2 separate regions of the Homo sapiens genome follow, and region 1 is linked to region 2. The links come from fine-mapping of genetic effects on gene expression. A gene starts in region 2. The other region holds a variant in brackets. All regions are shown on one strand. Distances are between the middles of the regions. Region 1 overlaps FAM81B (family with sequence similarity 81 member B). Region 2 holds the start of SKIC3 (SKI3 subunit of superkiller complex).

What was found. PIP is the estimated chance that this variant, and not a neighbour inherited with it, causes the effect.
Region 1: its variant is fine-mapped to the expression of SKIC3 in whole blood (INTERVAL, PIP 0.91).

Annotation. Positions count from the first base shown.
Region 1 is chr5:95,448,286-95,459,009 of GRCh38, forward strand. FAM81B (family with sequence similarity 81 member B) reads left to right here. Exons shown (of 10, transcript NM_152548.3): 9 at 1-179; 10 at 1,864-2,156. The coding sequence ends at 1,997. Among named protein-coding and RNA genes, the nearest start is that of FAM81B, 62 kb to the left of the region's middle. The variant C/T (reference allele first, on the strand shown) is at 5,188.
Region 2 is chr5:95,550,076-95,560,799 of GRCh38, forward strand. It overlaps SKIC3 (SKI3 subunit of superkiller complex), which reads right to left and starts at 4,902. Exons shown (of 43, transcript NM_014639.4): 1 at 4,861-4,902; 2 at 506-575. ARSK (arylsulfatase family member K) reads left to right here and starts at 5,026. Exons shown (of 8, transcript NM_198150.3): 1 at 5,026-5,329. The coding sequence starts at 5,204.

The DNA of each region.
Region 1 (10,724 bases), 100 kb before region 2:
AATGGAAGAAAAACTGCTGCAGCTTTCAAGCAAAGTAGAGAATTTCATTAACACACAGAAACAGGAAACACAACTAAGTAAAGTAAAGCATATGGAAAATAAATTGTCCAAAAAGATGGAACAAATGGAAAAGCAGATCTGGGGTGAATTAGAGACAATGCAGAATGAATATCAATCAGGTGAGCAGATACCTTTTATTAAGTAAAGAATATCTGTCCTTTCCTGTTCAATCCCTCAGTCTTCCACTTTGAGCTAATGGCCAGGGATCAATCTTGTCATTAGTGACATCGTTATGTATTTATTCCACTTTTCTAAATATCCTATAGAATATGAGTATTATACTGGAAGGCATATAAATAAATTAACTTTCTTCACTTGGCAATGTCACAGGCCTGCCATTGGTGTGAATTTTTTTTTTTTTTTTTTTTTACTAAGATCATGGAATTTTTACTAATTCATGGAATTGTCAGACTTGGAAAATCCTTGGACATACCCAAGACGTGACTTGTGGGTATGTTATGAAATTAAGAGCCTAAATCAAATGCCCTTCTCATTGAACTACAAGTAATGAGCTTGGACAGATGTCAGACTGGAGACCTGACCTTTAGAAGTGAGAAAGAGGGATGAATTAGCAGAGTCCAGTATAATGACTGCTTTTATTTTGAAGAGGCTAATGGCAGCAGTGTCAAGCTGAGCTAACATCAAAGAGGATTAATTTGAAAGGCTCATCTAATTTCTCAAAGGGAAGGACATGGAATAGGTGCTGTGGTGCAGCCATCTGCCTTGAGTCATAATTCTGAGGGAATTACCAGGACTCAGAAGAGTTTCTTTCCTAGAGAAAGTCCCAAGTAATTTTTTTTCTTTTGTCTTCTAGATCTCAGAAAAATTCATGTGTAAATTCTACCAAATTTGGTCCTGTATAGAGATACCTTGGAGGTGCCTTGGGAGGACATGAGGGTCTCAATCTGCCAGATGTTCCTGGCATATAAGTAGAATTTGCTGCCTGGAAATTCAACCCTCACAATATACCCCTCCCACCGTCATATCAAAATAATGAATTATCTGGCCAGGAATCATGTCCCAAACTTAACTGGCCCTTCTTTTAAAGGCTCTGCTTTCTGTTTAACTATCAGAGGTTTAATTTTACTTATTCCATTAGTAAAACTTCAGGGTGAACTGAAAAGGAATTTACCACCTGCAAGTTCTTTCATTTTACTAATGAGGAGGAGTTCTAAAAAGGGGGAACTTCAAATTAATGGTTTGCTGCTTTATGCCTTTAATAAAAATGTGTTGAGAAACGACTCTGTGAAAGGCCCCAGTGAATAACAAATGGGTTGTGCCCTAAGGCCTTGAGGTTTGATAGGTCTGTGGTCAGGAGTGACTAGACATGCATAAGAGAGATACAAAGTGCTAGGAGGGAGGAGGGCAGCAGGGGGCCGCTGTTAGGTCCCTCAAATAGGCTACTTTCAGAGAAGATTTAAAATCTCATCTGTGATCTTTACCTTCAATTTGGTAACAAGACTGAAAAAAAATCACACAAGTCTCTCATCAAAGCATTCAGAAAGAATAAAATATTTTAAATTTCTCTCTTGCAATATAGAATTATGCAATATATTTGAGGAGGAGAAAAATAAATTTCACAATGAAACCAGATAACTAGATATAAGTTGAAACACTATTGTGAATGGATCTTCATGACATACAAGAAATATATTATGTACAATTTTAGGCTGGTCTTCATAGAATTTAATGCGCTTGGAATTAAATGATAATCAATTATGGCAGGACTGCCGATTAGCAACTTTTTTAAAAAAAAGCTCTAATGCATTGTTTAAGTGTACCTATTCTTTTACCCTCTTACAGGATTTAAATCAATTCATGACTCTCTCAGCTCCCTCCAACAAATACAGAAAACAAAGATGGATTTAGAGAAATATAAAGTACAGAAAGACCTAAAGAAATTACAGCGCAAGATAGTGGAACTCCAGGAAGTATAAACCTTTTCAGTCATCTTCTTTTTCATCAGCCAATGGAGTGATTTGTTGGAAAAAGTTCTGAAGAAGAAAGTTACTATCTCTGGGATGTTTACTGCTTCTAATGTCTCCTTTTAAGGAGACGAATGTACCAGAAAAATAATAAAGCAAAGAAGCTTCGGATGTCTTGAATTTATTAATGAAAAAACTAAGAAATTTCTTTATATAGCTGCCTTTATGTATATATATACCTATAAATAACGAAAGAGGAATCTACATAAGGTACATGAGTGAAGTAGGCCAGCTGTAATATATTAAAGAATGACAGGAGCTCTGGCAAATTGGAGAGCACTTACTCTGTCTAAAAATAATAGCTACTATGTAGTGACAGTCCATGACTAACATATATATATATATATAAAATCCATTATTATCCAAAATTCCACTTTTCAAGAGAAATTCCTCTATTTTTAAGCTTTAGCAACTAGTTCAAAATAGTTCTCAAACTATGTGAGATACGCCTGTGGAGCAGATATGACCTAGTGGTCAGTTTGCAACTTCTAATCTCAATGTTTGTAGCAAGTCTAACTTATGCATATTTAAAATATATTTTCCTTGTACTCAATATGTACCAGAATTATAAGCAATTAAGAGCCAAACCATGCAAAATAAGAGAATACAACAGTTTCCATGAAAACATATCCAACGTAATTTGACCTAGGTGCTAAATTCAGAAGTACTTCAAAAATGCTAGTTTCCTATACAATTAAAAATTGTTGGCCAAGTGCAGTGGCTCACACCTGTAATCCTAGCACTTTGGGAGGCTGAGGTGGGTGGATCACTTGAGGTCAGGAGTTTGAGACCAGCCTGGCCAACATGGTGAAACCCCGTCTCTACTAATAACACAAAAATTAGCCGGGTGTGGTGGCGTGCGCCTGTAATACCAGCTACTCGGGAGGCTGAGGCAGGAGAATCACTTGGAACCCTGGAGACAGAGGTTGCAGTGAGCTGAGATCACGCCATTTCACTCCAGCCTGGGTGACAAGAGCAAAACTCTGTCTCAAAAAAAAAATTGTCTAACTTTTCTAGATATAAATATTAAATATAGAGCCTAATATTGAGCAGTATATTCATGAAACATAAAAATGAACTATTCAGGATATGCACTCGGCTATAACAAGGACTAATTTCTAATCACAGAACTTATGTAAGCTTGGCAATGGAAACTTTGCTTCCGACTTAGGCTCCTTCCTTGGCTTAGGGAAGAAAAGTGACAACTTCCTCCCCTAATACAGAACAAGTTTACCTTCTGAGTAAATTTTTGACTAATGCTCACTTCTGTAATGTTTTAACTCTATGAAACATCTCCTTTTATTGCTATTAATAACCCACATGCAGCATCATTGAGTCTATAACTGAAGGGATTTTCATAGCAGAATTTAATTTAAGAGTTTAAAATGCAGTATGTTCAGTGATGATATGGTATCCAACGAAAAAGTAAGAAATATTAAAATAATGCAATGGTAAGTGTCCTTTGTAACCAAGTATCATGCTAAGACAGAGGGCTAATATCCCAAGTAATCCCAAATAACTTTTACAAGTAAGTAAGAAAATAATCAATTTTTTTTCAAAATGGGCAAAGGATATGAACAGGCAAGCCACAGAAGAATATAATAATATGAAGGTATGAGAAGATGTCCAACTTTACTGTTAAATAAATAAAAATTAAGAAACCCTTAGCTACTATTTTCAAGATTGGCAAAGATTAAAGTGATTGATAATACTGGGCTGGCAAGGGTGGAGAAAGAGTGCACTCTCATACATTATTGGCGAGTCTATAAATTGGTACAATGATTTAGATGGCAATTTGAGAACATCTGTTAATGTTTTTAAATGTAAATATCTTTTGATCCTGCAATCCATGGCTAGAAATTTATATTACCGGGGGAAACAACTCCCAAAGTGTGCAAAGATATATGAACAAGAATGCTCATTATAGCATCATTTGTTATAGTTAAAAAAAAAAAAAAAAGGAAAAGAAACACCAAAACCAGAAAACACCCAAATATAAGGAATTGATTGACTAAATGGTATTAACAAGACCACTCCCCCCACCACCCAATGCTGGACAGCCCTTTAAAAAGAACACAGAAAGATGTCCAAGATATACTGTTAGGTGAAAAAGACAAGTTTAAAAGCAATATGGATATGATCCACTTTTGTCATAAAATGTTTTAACTAAGTTAAACATAATATGCATATACTGTATGCCAAAAAAGGTAAGAATTTACAACAAACTTAGTGGATTCTATTTTTTAAAAAACTTCTGTTTTCTACATTAAGGATTTATGAAAGCTTTTATATTTTTATATAATATTTTTGTTTCTACTAAAAATATTTTATAAAAACAACAACAAATATAATAGGCTGAAAGAGTAACTCTTTGTAATGAACTAAACAAATGATTGTAGGGAGGGTTAAATTAGGAATTAATACAGACTAAGAGTCAAGTCATCTCACTCTCTTTTTGCTATACAGACATAGCTACAAAAGCAGAGAGGATACACAGCAACTGAAAAAAATATACATTTTCTCCTTGTTCTAAATGTTCTAATGTTCTAAAATGTTCTAAATTAGATTGTAGTTCAAATAATAGTGTAAAATCAGGCCAAAAGTTTTCCAACAATAGATCTTTCATTGCTCTTGGCCAGGACAGTAACATGTGGGGCAGTAGATCAAAGGATCAAAGAATCCTCTATCACCACTCTTCTACTTGGGATGCCAAATTGAGGTGTTCACGGGTTTGCACAGACTCTAGATAGTCAAAGAACTATGCTCATTGAGCAGGTGGATCCAGGTTTCTCAGAGTCTAAAGCTTATGATGTTTCAGTTTGTTATTGATGTACTGTCCTGATGCCAGATGAGTTAGCACAGAAGTCTATAAGAATATTCCTGGAAGCCACTCCTAATCAGGACAGCTAGTAGTAACTCAACACAGAAGTGACTGTGAACAACATGAATATATCCCTGTAATCCAAATGTATCCCCAACTCAACTTCTCTTTGTCCACAGCCACTTCAGCACCACCCGACATCAAGGGAAGTGGGAGTGAAAAGAGGCAGTGGTCTTAATCAATGGCATTCATCAATTATGTTTAAAATGTCTTACTTCTGTAAATATGACAATGATCTTGTAAATACATGGCTAGAGCTCA[C/T]GCAAGCAGGAGCCCCTGAAGCTTAAGAGCCATTGTTTCACAGTAAATTCACCTCTGTTCAAGGAACCAGTGGAGCACTGGGCCTCCCTCCCCTTGCATTTATTTTGACAGAAATCCAAAAAGATAAATAAAACTATCCTCCTAAAGAAGCTCAATATACATGGCACTTTATTCCATATCAAACAATATTACTTAATCCTTTGGGAAATGTCAGACTTCTCTTCCCACAAATATAGGATGATTGAGCACTGGAGAATCTGCAATCCAGATCCACGCTACAGACTTGAGGCATATGTTAAAATATGCTCAGGTAGTTTTTACTTTAAGTACAAACACCATTTAAACAGTCTTGAATAGTTAAGGGTCCTACTGCCCTTAAATTTCCTGTTGTTTCCTTCCTATTATCAACACCTGCTCTTAGAAAACATAGGAGAAAAGCCCCTTGACATTAGTTTTGACAATGACTTTTTGGATATAACACCAAAAGCACAGGCAACAAAAGTAAACAAGTGAGATTACATCAAATTAAAAAGTTTCTGCACAGCAAAGGAAACAATCAGCAAAATGAAAGAACCTATGAAATGGGAGAAAATATTTGCAAACCATATATCTGATGGGGAACTAGTATCCAAAAACATATAAGGAACTCAACAACTCAATAGCCAAAAACACAAATAACCTGATAAAAAAAATGGGCAAAGGACCTGAATAGATGTTTTTCCAAGAAGATATACAAATAGCCAACAGATATATAAAAACTCAAATGATAACAGGTGTTGGTGAGGATGTAGAGAAAAGGGAACCCTCGTGCACTGTATGTGGGACAATAAATTGGTACAGCCATTAGGGAAAACAATATGGAGGCTGTTCAAAAAAACTAAAAATAAAACTATCACATGATCCTGCAATCCCACTTCTGGAAAATAAAGTGAAAACAGTATGTCAAAGAGATATTTGCACCCTATGTTCACTGCAGCATTATTCACAATAGCCAAGATGCGGAAACCACCTGACAGAAGAATGGATAAACTGTCATCTATGTATATACATATATATATAATTCAGGTTTACAGAAGAAAGAAATCTTGCCATTTGCGACAACATGAGTGAACTTAGAGGGCATTATGCTAAGTGAAATAAGCTAGGTACAAAAAGCTAAATACTGCACAAACTCACTTACATGTGGAATCTCTTTAGAAATAAATGAAGAATAGAACAGTAGTTGCCAGAACTCATAGAAATAAACAGAGAATAGAACAGTAGTTGCCAGGGGCTGGGAGCCGAGGCAAATGGAAGATTTCAGTCAAAGGATACAAACTTTAAAGTTAAAATGAATAAATTCTGGAGATCTAATGTACAGCATGTGGATCATACTTAATAATGTACTGTCTATTTGAAATTTGCTGAGAGATCTTCAGTGTTCTTACCACACACACAAAAATGGTAACTATGTGAGGTGATACGTTAATTAGCTTGATTGAGGTATCACAGTGTATATTAAAACCCACAATGTACATCTTACATATGTAGAATAAAAAATTTTAAACTTGCTCTTTGGGGAAAAATCATATGAAATTATTCATACTGAGGACTAGATGGTCATGTTCAAAGTGTTTTACTTCTGCACTAAAAATTAAGGACAAATCCCTCCCCTTCTGCCACACAGGTAACTGCTTTCTCAGCCCCATTGTGAGGCATATATGCTTGCCATCTGGTAGTCAGGACAGCAGCAAGGCCCAAGACTTTGGTCAAAGAAACAGCATTCCCAGAGTACTCTAGACACCAGCAGCCCTCCCGTCTTCTAATTTTCCAAACATAGACTCCCTTCCATTGGCTTCACCCATAGTAGCAGCAAGTAGCATCCCAAAACACCAAGAAGGAAAAATTTGATCTATAGTACACACACACACACACACACACACACACACACAGTGCACATTGTTGCCTTACAAAAGGGATCTCCAAAGTTTTTGTGAAGTATTACTATTTCTATCTTTCCAGCTTCCATACATCCATGGGCTAGCCACTGTGGATACAATATTGAACAACCTAAACACAAACCCTGCCTTCAGGGAATTTATAGTTTAGTGGAAAAGACCAACAATTAAAATCACAAATACATGGGAAAGTAGAGTGTAATGGGAGAGCCAGAGAGAGGAAACACATTCCCTGTGTTTACCAGAAACACAGGGAATCAGGCAGAGGGGTCTTCCAGAAGAAGGAGTATCTAAATTGAGACCTCCAATGTATAAGCAGACATAAGTCAAGGGAAAGAGGCTTGATTGGTAGAGGTGAGGGCTCAGGCAGATTGATCAGCCTGAGCAAAGGCCTGGAGGCCAAAAGAGAATGGGGATATATGCCAGAAATTGCAAGAAGCTCAATAAGTGTAGGTCAGAGCCTATGCTGTGTGTTAGGGGAGGTGAGTAGTGAGAGAGAAGGCTGGAGAAGTTAGGGAAAGTGGGGTGTCTAATCACAAAAGACTTTGTAACTCATATTGAGAAACTTGGGCTTTATCTTAAGGATCCAGAGTAGCCTTTAAAAGATCTTAAATAGGAGAGTGACAGATTTGCATTTTATAGAAAGATCCCTCTGGCTGCAGTGTAGAGAATACATTAGATGCAGTGTGGGAAGCAAATTTGGGTGGGAAAGGAGGGAAATAATACAGCAGAGAGGGGATAATGAGATGTTTTAAACTAATTGATTTTGAGGCATCTATGGGACATCCAAATGGAGATGTCCAGTGGTTAGTGAGAGAGCTGGGCCTGGAGCATGAGAGAAAGATCTGAACTGGGGATTTAGCTTTGGAAGTCACCAGCAGAGAAATGGTTACTGGAATTACTGGGGAGGAAGGCATTGCCTTGGTTAGGTGGGATAGGGGTTGGGGACATGAAGACTACAGTGAGAAGTAGAGACCAAGAACAACCTAACACTGAAGACACCTAACACTGAAAGAACAGCAGAAGAGTCCTGGGCGAGTATGGGGAGACGTGCAGCAGTAAAGTAGGAGAGGGAGTGTAATCATTTGAAGGTTTCAGTGTTCCTTGGGAGTTCCTGCTGGCAGACGGTGTCAGTAATCAACTTGAAGTTCTACTAGTATTACTTCAAGACCCACCATTAGTTTTCCATTTATCAAAGAGGACCCCAACCTACAGTGTAAACTTGACAAGGTATATTATGCAACACAGTGAAGAATAGTTACAAATGCTTTCTTGAGTCTCCTTCCATGCCATAAAATAAACATGCTGCATCTTCTCCAATGCAGAGAGGGTGGGGAGCCCTCCTTGAGAGAGGAAGGATGGTTGCCAGGAAAAACATTAGGCTGTTTTGGCCTCTACCTAATTAGGCATTTCCCTCTTCAGATTAGAGTTACACACACTTGTGTTAAGGGTTTAATATTATGTCAAATCGTTCCCTTGATATACAGTTATAAAAATGTGACTCCATAGACTAAATTTCCATAACTCTCTGTTCTTTTGTAGAGTTTTGCTACTTCCTTTCAGAAGATATTTACAAATACAAATGTGATGTTTACAAATCAGAAATCATTGATGAACTCAGCACTACGTCATAAACCAGGTCTTCCTCAACAGTCTCAAAAGATGCACTGAGAAAAGAGAAAAATAACCCAAACTTCTATGCTGAGAAGTCTTGAAGGGTCTTGTGGCCTAACAAGCCAGAGTTTAAACCCAGTGCCACCATTCATTAGCAGTGTGACTTTGGATATATTCCTTAATTTCAGAATCTCAATTTCCTTATCTTAAAATGGGGATAACAATACCTATCTTGTAGGCTACTGAGGCATTAGAAAAAACATTTATTGAGCTATCATCAGATATTAGAGATAGCTCAAAGTACTTTCCATAGATTAATGCATTTAATCTACCAGATGCCTATTACCGAGGCACAGAGAGGTTAGATAACTTATGTAAGGTCATATTGCCAGTAAAAGATAGAGCAAGGATTTGAACTCACAAGAACAGAGAACTTGTTCTTAAACATTATGCTACACTGTTTCTCTAAATATATGTAAACCATCTAATACTAGTGTCTGATACATAACAGGCACTGTACTTGATAAATGGTATTAATACAAGTAAACAGAGCTTTTTATCTTTATGGGAAAAGAAAGACAAGTTCCATGGTGCACTGGCATACAACTCTGATTCAGATTAGTATCTAAAAATACTTGAGCTTAAAAAAGATTCTTTTACTATGTATGAGAAGAAATACCTTGGCTTGCAATAATTCTAGCAATGGACAAAAGCAGAGGGAAGTACAAAATATAGATTTCTCCTGCAACAAACTATAATGTGGAACTATTCCTCTATTTTAAAAGCATTTCTTTCAATTGTCTCTGGAGAAGGAGGCTAACAGCTGAAGCAACATTATGGGCATTGACTGGAGGTGCACAAGATGCTGATGCTACTGTCCAGTGAAGGATGTTTCCTCCAAAAGTCCTGGCCATCAAAGCAAACCCAATAGCCATTACAGCCAGGTAAAAGCCATTAGTACTCATCTAGTAGGTCCTTCTACAAAAAAGTAATGCACTGTGTTCATAAGGCAAACATTCAGGGATAGACTTCAAATGGAGTGGGGCCTACATGGTACTGGACAAACCCCCTCCCCTACAACCCAAAATGACTCTTATACTAAAGAATCCGTGTAGTCTCTAGGCCAAAATTCTATCACATAGCACTTAACAGCTTCGAAGTATTCATAATACCAACATTAAATATTCAAAAAATGCAGGAATGGATGGATGGATAGGTAGAGGAAGAAAGAAAAGAATGAATGAATGAACATATACACACCCATGAGATTTTACCAACTATCTTCTCTGCGGGGATTAGTTGATAAAGAAAAAAAAAGTAAGGTCCTTTGTACCTTAACATGGGATGGCCAAAAGAAAGTTGAACTCTGGGAAGACAGGTTAGAAAAAGCCAAAGAGAAAACCAAGGGGCGGCATTTGTGATGTTATCAAGGATTAAATGATTAAATGAAACAATAAGCTCACTTCAGCCGGCTTATATCAACTTCAAAACGTAACAAGAGTGGAGTATTCTATTCTCTATCATTACATAGGCTTAAATTTGCAAAGTTAATCCTCGGGAGGAGGTTCCCTTCTTCCCAAGTTTCCTCCTAGAATTCAGATAGTACCAAAAGGTAAATGGCAGCATCTGAATACAGGTTTGTAGGATAACTAAGTCAGACTCAAAGATACACACCTCAACCTTTTTACATTTCTTTGAGTTGACAGCAATCATTAACAACATTTGACAACAGTATTGGAAACTATCTTTGGGGCCAGATTCTGCTTGCCTAAGAATACTGTTAATTTTAGAAAAGATAATCTCTCTGAGACTTCTTTATAAAAGTTTTTTGGTCTGTAAAATAAGGATAATAGCCACTATTTAAAAAAAGTGAAAATTAAATGAGGCGATAAAGAGCTTGGCACATGGTGGGCATTCAATCTATCCCCGGTTGCTGAAGCCCTGGTGGGTAATGATTACTACCTCATAAGCACAAAAAGCTCCTCT
Region 2 (10,724 bases):
ACTGTCTTTTTTTAAATAAGAGTATTCATTTTGTACGTTTTCACTCAAGTTTTTCTACTACCAACCCAAAATATTTTTATCCAACATAAATCAAGAATAAAAAGTGGCAACAACTGCACTTAAAAAGAGTTAGAAAGTGACAGTCATGCCATAAAGGCAATGATATTCCTCAAGGACAACATATATAGGTATGATATATATGTCCCCAGTTGAGGCTATGAAACCTTAAATAATATTCCAATATGCTCATACAAAGATTCCACAAAGCTAAAACAACAATAATAATAAATAGTAATGATAATGACAACGGAAGCTAATTACAGAAAGGAAAAAAAACGATATCTTTAAATCTAATAACAAAAGGTATTTTGTAATGACCCATAGTCTGACATTAAAAAAAAAAAAAAAACTATGCCATTAAATCTTTCTTCTGAAAGGAATGAGTAAAAACAATCATTAAGTAAAAATAGATTCCAATTTATTATTTAGCATTGTAGACACTTACCTTTTACCAATTATTACCACCTCTATATTCTTCCCGAATTGAATTTGATTGTTCCTTACCCATTTTCCATCTAAATTAAACAAAAACAAGTATGAGACAATCATATAAAAAGGATGACACCCACAACCCAAAACCTTCTAAACTTTTTAACGCATCAATTTTCATAATTCATAATTTAAAACATGAGAAATAATTATGTATAATTTTTAGTATTTTTATTCTTTCCCAGAGAGACACTATTCTTAATCTCCAAACTTCTGAATTGGTCTAAACTATATTCCTGGGCCTCAGATGATAAAAGGAAACTTCTACAAGAGATCAGAAGGATTTTGAGAAACCATTTCAGAAACCCAAAATACACTGATGTCAATATAAAAAAATAGAGCCAAAGAAGAATATCTACTATTTCTGTGCCATTTTTGCTTTGAATCAAGGACATCTACAGACAACTAAGGGTACTTATTTACACCCAATTTGCAGCCTAATTATATTAGAATAGAACTTTTCTCTAAGGAACATAAGGAGTATAATATAATACAATTATATTAGTTTGTAATCTAATGAAAACAGAGAAATTTTTTTAATGTTAACAATGCATTTAAATAGTCATTAAAAATAGTAACACAACTACACATCTACAAATTCTAAGGATATTTTGATAGCATCCCTGAAGTGGCTTCTGTCAAACAAAAAACAATCTAGAATGGTCCCTGCAGAGAATGGAAGTGGTTTTGAAAAACTGAATAAAGTGAAAAAAAACATGCTACTTCAGAACTAGGAAGTAAACAATGTTTAGGTGAGGCAGGTAGGGATGAACAAGGAATGAAAAGTTTCCCTAACCAAAACACTCATTAGTGATCTACCGAAATAGAAGTGTCACTCCAACAGTAGAAAGTCTTACTGGTAAGAAAAGAAAGTATGGTAATCCAAACAATGTTTAGGAAAGTAAGATAATAGTTAAAAAAGAAAAAAAAGTACAAACTTGACTATTTCACTGGCTTCTTTAGCCCTGCTAACACTTGGCTGCCCTCCTCACCCAATCTAGTTTTATCACTCAGTCACTTCAACTCTGTTCTTACAAAGTACCCTAGATCCTGTCAGCCCCTTTACTCTGTCATATCCACCCACCAAGGCTTACCCTAGTTGAGAGTGAGCTTAGGAAATCAAATGGATCTAGGATCAAAGCCATTAGGCCTTGGGTACATGACTTCATTACTCAAAGCCCATTTCCTCACTGGTAAAGTAAGAATTACATCACTTACCTGATACACACATAGATGGAGTACTTGGACATAATCTATACTAATAATGTCCTATCTACTATTATTCTCTCAATCAACTTTGCTACTTGCCATTCCTAAAACAACTAGTGTGATAACTCAGTGTTAAAAATTTTCCCTACACATTCAAATCCCCAACCGTCCTGCAACCTCCTTCTTCCTTGCTCTCTCAAGAAGTAAACTTCTTACCTATACAAACGGCCCCTGACTTACAAATGGTTGAACTTACAATTTTTTGACTTTACGATGGGCTTATCAGCATATTAAATGCATTTTGACGTACAATATTTTCAAGTTAAAATGGGTTTATCATGGTGTAACCCACCATAAGAAGCATCTGTATTCCTCAAGACAGCTATCATCAAACATGAGTACCCTCTTCATATTAGTTACTACACTACATGAATACTAGAGTACAGCCTACAACAGGGATCACTCCCTCCTCCAAACCTCCAAACTGAGCTACTCAACTGCAACTTAACAAATATTATTTTTATTATCCTATATAGACATAATTCAATTATGTCTCCCAATTCAATAAATTCTTAGACGTAAGTCTTATATTTTCAGAGCTTCTTATATACCCAACACTTACTGGATAATACATATTCAATAAATAGCTAATGATCTTCCAGCTTCCAAGGCTTACCAGTGTTAACAAAAAAATGAGTGACTGAGGGAAGTGTCTCAATCAGTAGATGTTTATTGAGCCACACTTTGAGCACACGCCTGGGGAAAAACAAGCCACAGAAGCATCTGTGACCCACACTTTCCAAAGAGGGCTTTCGGAACTCAGTATTCTAGAGGAGAGCATGCAGGAGTGAAAAATGGCGGGAGGGAAGTAGGCAGTGAGGCAAATGGTTACATTCTCTTGAGTACCTTTTCTGATAGCATAGAATTACTGATTAGCAAAAATGTTGTACGTTCACAAAAGAGTAATCAAAACAATGAGGAAACCTGAAATTATGAGAACTAGCTGAAGAAACTGGGGACTAGGAAAAATAAATAAATGGTGGCGAGGGAGTTGGGGGAAGGACTGTTGAAAGGGAGAGATTATCCATGTAAAAGTGAAGAAAAATGCACTAATGAATGGTTAAAAATAGAGGAAGATTAACTTCAACTTAAAATAGGAACTTTTAATGAGACCTATATAAATGTGGAATGAGGTACTCAATGGAAGTGTTTCCCATCACTGGAGATGAAAAAGCACAGGCTGGACAATCCACTCAGCAGGAATGTTTTAGGATAAACTGAATGTCAGATGGGAAGTAGGACTAGAAGCCTCTTAGATTCTTCCAGCACAACGTCTCTAAGGCTCTAAAATATCTGTCTTGCTCCAAATCACTGCAGCACCTGCTCCTATTGACACTGCCAAGGGGAGAAAGAAGAAAAAGATGTATTCTTGTAAGCCTGTCATCAGAGTACATGTCCTGTGGAAACAAGGCTGTAGAGAGTAAGCACAGTTTATGGAATCAGACACAAAATTAAATATAACTTTTATGAATTTAAATGTCAGTCAATATTGTCACTATGGTAGAAAATACGTTCTACATTCCAAATTAACTCAAAACAAATTTGTTTTTATGAGAGAGCCCACTTGTATTACCTTCCGTGCTGTATTATTATTTCATGTATGCTTGGTTTTGCTTCCCTGAAATCTAAACTCATGTAAACTGAGACTATTGTTTAGGGGTTTTTTTGTTTTTGTTTTTTTTTTGAGATGGAGTTTTGCTCTTGTTGCCCAGGCGGAGTGCAAAGGTGCGATCTCAGCTCACTGCAACCTCCACCTCCTGGGTTCAAGTGATTCTCCTGCCTCAGCCTCCCTAGTAGCTGGGATTACAGGCGCCCGCCACCACGCCCAGTATTTTGCGTATTTTTCGTAGAGACGGGGTTTCACCATGCTGGCCAGGCTGGTCTCGAACCCCTAACCTTCGGTGATCCGCCCGTCTCGGCTTCCCAAAGTGCTGGGATTACAGGCGTGAGCCACCGCGCCCAACACTGTTTACGTTTTTGCATGCTCCCGCAGATCTTTATCATGCTGCTTGAGTAACAATTCTGCTACACTAACAGATAAACTAACTGCAGACAGAGCATTTAGTGAGTTACGGCACAGACTCTTCAATTTTCAGTCGTGCTCTGACTGGCTCCCTGTGTAAACTCAGGCCAGTCATTTAACCTCTCTAAGCCTGTTTTCCTATCTGCAATATGGTGAAAGTGAGGATTATAGAAAATATTCCATATAAAAGTACGTGGCACGCAGCAGATGCTCAGTAAATGCTTAGTATAACGCTCAGCACCTAAGTGCCATGTGAGTATTAAATAAACAAATCTGTTCCTTACTACAATTATCTTAGGCAAAAAAAAACCTGCCAGATATTAGTATTCAGTTGACTTAAGTAAGTAGTATAACTCCTCTTTTAACTGTCAGAATATTAAAACTACTAGTGTGATGTGCAAATTATATACCCGAAACTAGATACAGAAATTGGAATTTGGCTTTGGGACAGAAATCTGCTTCTTCCAGAACTCTCCAAAGGAATTCAACAGTCAAAAGAGACCGGTTTTTATTCTGCAGCAAAACAATGATATTCTGAACCTACGTCAACTAACTGAACATGTCACACAGCCCATTTCCCCCTCCAGTTTCGCTTATCTCCTTTGCTCTCTGAAGGCAAGGAACAGCTATGCTTTCCCCTGCCTACAGCCTGAAACTTCTTACTAGGCCCCGCTCCTCGCCCCATGGGAGCACAGTAAATCCTGACTGCACGGGGTAAGAGAAGCAATAAGATGAGACAGGCTAGAGATTTCCCTGGGAAGGTATTCGGGGGGGTCTAAGGCATTCACGGCGCACCTGAGGCGGTCCACCCAGAGGCCCCACAAGGCACCGCCCTATTCAACTTAAGTGACAGCCGCGCCGCCACCTCATCGCCGCCCAGTTCACGCTCTCGCCGAACACTCAGCCACGCTTGCGCGGCCCAAAATGAACAGCCCCGGCCCCGATCCTTTCTTTCTCTAAGTACCATTTCAATCGCCTTTAGGATCCCTTGTGCAAAACCGACAGAAATCCAAACCCACCTGGAGCAGATGCTCCTCTTCTACAAACGCCGAGGCTGCAATGAGAGCGCATGCGCCTTTCCCAGGACTCATTCACGTGACTGGAAGTGGCTGGGTTCTGATTTGCTCGGTATTTGATTAAAAGGTCTTAACGTGGGTAAAAGCGGGAATTTCTCTGTTGCGCATGTGCGCGCTCTCCGCCTGATAGGAGTTGTAGTTCTGCGGGTGAAGCTCGGCGTTACTATCAAGCAACCAAACTGCAAGCTTTGGGAGTTGTTCGCTGTCCCTGCCCTGCTCTGCTAGGGAGAGAACGCCAGAGGGAGGCGGCTGGCCCGGCGGCAGGCTCTCAGAACCGCTACCGGCGATGCTACTGCTGTGGGTGTCGGTGGTCGCAGCCTTGGCGCTGGCGGTACTGGCCCCCGGAGCAGGGGAGCAGAGGCGGAGAGCAGCCAAAGCGCCCAATGTGGTGCTGGTCGTGAGCGACTCCTTCGTAAGTACCGCGAGGCAGGGGAGGGGCGCCCCGCTGGGGATCGGCGACCTCACCGCCGCCGCCTGTGCTGCAGGCTTTGGGGAGCAGAACCTGAGACATTTTCAAACACCTTTTACCCCGATGCAAAGAAAGAAATACATTTTATGTGAGGCCCCGTGTACTCACACGTACACCACATACCTATGCAAACATGTAAAACAATAGTGAAACACTGAAAACATCTTTGCAGATCTTTTTTTTTTAATACTGACCTCGATTCGCTAAATTATTTTACCACGACTAATGAACTTTCAGTCCATACCCCCGTTTGGTTTAATTGTGTGGTAAAATAACATTCTGCATCTCCATAAAAGCGTGTTAGCTTTCCAAAAGTCATTTTCCAGTTCACCTCAAGTTTGCAGGAATTCATGTTTGGGTGAGAAGTGAAGAAAGTTTATTTTTATTACCCAGGTCTGTGATAATCCTGTTAGTGCTGATTCAAATGGAATCGTTGGTATAACTTGATTCACTCCCCCGTATTCCAGAGAAATTGTGTGTATGTGTGTGTGTTGGTAATGTGGCTGAATCCCAAACTTAAACAGTTTTTGAAACTTTCCCAAGCCAAAGGTGCTACTGTCAACCTTACGCGATGCTTTTAGGATGATCCATGTTTTAAAAAGTGCTGCTTAGACAATTGTTTGGTTATTAATTGTAATATTAGTTTATTATCACTCGGTGTTACTGTGGTCACACAGATGTTGGTGTTAAGCATATCTGGCACTAAAGAGTGTTTGTAATCATATGTTGTATTTCCTTTCTCGTAGATTCCTGATGATTAAAATTACATAGTCTGGATGTGCCCATGGGATTTTTTGAAAATATTACTTAAAGTTATCTTTGTGATTTAAACTTAGAGAATGGGCAGTACTGGAAATTGACTAGATGGCATTTTATTACAGAGTGCTCTTGTAATCAAAGGCAAATGAAGGAAGCAGGATTGTGCAGAGGAGAAGCTGAATTTTGTTGCCATCTTATGAATGACAGTTCTCAAACTAGTATGGTGCTTCAGAGCTGCTTTCCAATAGGAGTGAGGAGAACAGACCTTTCCACCTGCATGTTGGATGGCCACTGGTTGTGGGCTGCTCCTAGAATGGGGCATGGTGTTGGGCAAAGCAGCTGTCTTCAGCAGAGGCAATTGTTCATTCCTAAAAGGGAATCCGAATGTGGATCACAACATCCCAGAAACTTCCAAAGATGACTGAGATATATAGGTTTGTTATTTTTTTTAGTGTAGTATGAATGCATAGATTTTTCTATATTTGTGCTTAAATTTTTTGCATTCACGGCCGGGCGCGGTGGCTCACGCCTGTAATCCCAGCACTTTGGGAGGCCGAGGTGGGCGGATCACGAGGTCAAGAGATCAAGACCATCCTGGCTAACACAGTGAAACCCCGTCTCTACTAAAAATACAAAAAAATTAGCCGGGCGTGGTTTCGGGCGCCTGTAGTCCCAGCTACTCGGGAGGCTGAAGCAGGAGAATGGCGTGAACCTGGGAGGCGGAGCTTGCAGTGACCTGATATCGCACCACTGCACTCCAGCCTGGGCGACGGAGCGAGAGTCCGTCTCGAAAAAAAAATAAAAATAAAAATAAAAAAATTTTTAAAAAATAAAAAATAAAAAAAATTTTTGCATTCACATACTTGTTAATATTCAAACTGTCCTATCTTTGGCCAGTGGAAGCCCCTTCAGGTGGTTCTGAGTCCTTTTGACCCATCCCCATTAGTATTTGACAGCTTGCTTTAACAGAGTTCCATGTCCACAATACATATTTCCTGTCCCATCTTGTATTTAGAGACCACAGTCTGAGTGTTAGGGTGTTCATTGCATCTAGACCTTTCCAGTGGACAAATCTAGAAAGTATATAATATTTTAGAATGAGAAAAATAAATTGTGAGATCATACTGATACTTTCCATTCAAATTTAAGATTACAAGTTTATTCTTTGATTTTTATACTTATATCTTTTTTGTTTTATGCCAAATATTTTGGTCTAAATGCATTAATGCAATTACTTATTTGCTTTATCCAAACATATAATATGTATATATCAATGTGTTTGAAAATAAGACTGTAATATTACTAGAAATAATGCTAGTCCTGAGTGCAGCTTACAGTTTCTTTGAAGTTTTTGTTTTAGGTATATTCAACTATATAGTAAAAATGTTGGTCTTTAAACTTAAAATAATTCCTCTCTCTATGATTATACCAGTTTGGTATGCTGTTAGATTCTTGACACTGTGATTTATCATTTCTAAAACTCTGCAGGCTAAGATAGAGCAGTTAAGCTGGATAATAATTGTAGGAAGAAAATAGCAAATTGGTTTTACTTTCAGGATAACAACGCAAGAGCTTTGTAGATCAACTCCCAAGAAAACAAGCAAACCAAATGAAAACTCTTTTTTAAACTATACATAAAAACTATTAAATATTTGAAACACTTAAAGTGTCTGGAAACTGTCCTAAGGTCATACACCAAATGAAGAAACATTTATTCAAGAAAATCTATGAAAACTTGGTAAGAATAGCAAGAAGGGTCTGTGGCAGTGAACTATAGTTTTGACAGAGGTTTCACTCAGGTGGGTGTGGCCAAGAAGATAGGACTACTCCCCCTCGGCTCCCAATCACCAGTTATGGTATCTCACCAAAAGGGACAGGCTGTGAGATTTCTCATCTTCTCCTAATCCAAGTTGGAGAGGTTAAATTCCTAATGAATGCAGCTGAGAAGTTGAGGGCTCCCTTACTTCAGTCAGCCCCCACTTACAGGACAGAGGCTTTATGCCAAGTGCGGAAAGTTGAGAATCCTAGGGCCCTAATTGCCCTGGCCCTAGCTCTCTAGTAGGACAGAGGTTCCATACCAGGAGAGACAAGCTGAGAAGACCAAACAAGCTTCTGCAAAGCAAGCAGAATGGAGGAAATAATAAGGATTAGGGCAGAAATTAAAGAAACAGAGGATGGAAAAATAGTAGAGAAAATCAATGAGACCAAAAATTGGTTCTTAGACAAAATCAGCAAAATTGACAAACCTTAGCTATACTGAACAAGAAAAAAGACAAAAGAGCTAGATGACTAAAATCATGAAAGAGAATGGTTACATTATCTTAAGAAATAAAAGAATTACAAGGGAATACTTACATACAACAACTGTATGTCATCAAATTAGATAAATGAAATGGACAAATTGCTAGGAAGGCAGAAACTACTGAAACTGACTCAAGAAGAAATAGGCAATCTGAATAGACCTATAAGAAGTAAAGAGGGTAAACTGGTAATTTTAAAACTACCAACAAAGAGAAGCACAGACCCAAACGGTTTCACTGATAAATTCTACCAAATACTTAAAGAATAATTAATACTAATTCTTCATCTACTCTTCCAAAAATTAGGAGAGAACACTTCCAAACTATAAGACCAGTTTGGCCGGGCGCGGTGGCTCACACCTGTAATCCCAGCACTTTGGGAGACCGAGGTGGGTGGATCACCTGAGATCAGGAGTTCGAGACCAGCCTGGCCAACATGGCGAAACCCTGTCTCTACTAAAAATACAAAAATTAGCCAGGCGTGGTGGCAGGCACCTGTAATCCCAGCTACTCGGGAGGCTGAGGCAGGGAGAATTGCTTGAACCCAGGAGGCAGAGGTTGCAGTGAGCCGAGACGTGCCATTGCACTCCAGCATGGACAAAAGAGCAAGACTCCATCTCAAAAAACAAAAACAAAAAAACAGTTCATGCCTGATTCCAAAGCCACGAATACATCACAAGGAAAGAAACCCACAGACCAGTATCCCTTAGGAATATAAGAGCAAAGATCCTCAACAAAATGGATTTGGCCCTCCATATTCACAGGTTCTGAATCCGCAGATTCCACCAATCTCAGATAAAAATATATGGTATTTATGGGATGTGGAACTCACAGAACTTGACTTTTCCTATCCATGGGTTCCACAGGGCTGACTGTGGGACTTGAGCCCGCAAAGATTTGGTATCCTTGGGAGGTCCTGGAAACAATCCCCTGCAGATACCAAGGGACAAATGTACTAGGAAACCAAATTCATTAGTATGTAAGAAGGATTATTCACCATTACCAAGTGGAATTTGTCCCCAAAATGTACAGTGAGTTTAATATCTGAAAATCAATTAATGTAATACATCATGTTGACTGAATAAAGGACAAAACCCATGTGATCATCTCAATAGATGCAGAAAAAGCATTTGAGAAGATTTGACAATCCTTATGCATTCAACTGGCTAGAAATAGAAGGGAACTAAAAGGCATCTACAAAAAAAGCCAGAACTTTACACTGAATGGTTAAAAGAAAAAAAAAATCAGTTTTCTGACTAAGATCAGGAAGAAGACAAGGATGTGTGTTCTCACCACTGCTATACAGCATTGTACTGGGGGTTCTAGCCACAGAATTAGAAAAAAGATTAAATAAAAGGCATTCACATTGGAAAGGAAGAAGTAAAAGTATCTATACTTGCAGTAATCTTGTATGTAGGATTCTACGGCTCCACTACAAAACTATTGAACTAATAAATTAGTAAGGCTGTATACCAGATCAGTGTACAAAAATAAATTGTATTTTATATACTTAATTGATTAACACACTTATAGTCAAATTAAGAAAACAGTTCCATTTAAAGTAACATCAGAATGGATGAAATACTTAAAATAAATCTAATCAAGGAAATATAGTTCTTATACTCCGAAAACTACAAAACATTGTTGAAAGAAATAAAAGAACATTTAAATAAATGAACAGACATCCCCTTTTCATGGATCAGAAGATTTAATATTGTTAATATAGCAGTACTCACCAAAATGATCTACAGATTCAATTCAATGCCTGTCAAAATCCCTAGAACCTTTTTTTTTTTCTGCAGAGATGGAAAAACCCATCCTAAAATTCATATGGTAATTCAAGGGACCCAGAATAGCCAAAAATAAATCTTGAAATAAAAAGAACAAAGTTGAAAGACATACACCTCCCAATTTTAAAGCTTATATCTTAACTACACCAATCAATGTAGTATGTTATTGGCTTAAGGATAGGTGACATACAGATCAATGGAATAGGATCTAAAGTCCAGAAATAAACTCTCATATTTATAGTAAATTGATTTTTTAACAAGGGTGCCAAGACCATTTAATAGGGAAAGAATGATCTTTTAAACAAATGGTGCTGGAAAAAAAAAATATGAATGAAGTTGGACCCTGCCTTGCACCATACACAAACACACAAAAAAAAACTTTAAGTAAATTGATTGATTAATCAAATGTAAAACTAAAAAACTCTTACAAGAAAACATAGGTGTAAGTCTTTGTGATTGTGGATTAGGCAATTAAAAGATGGGCAAAAG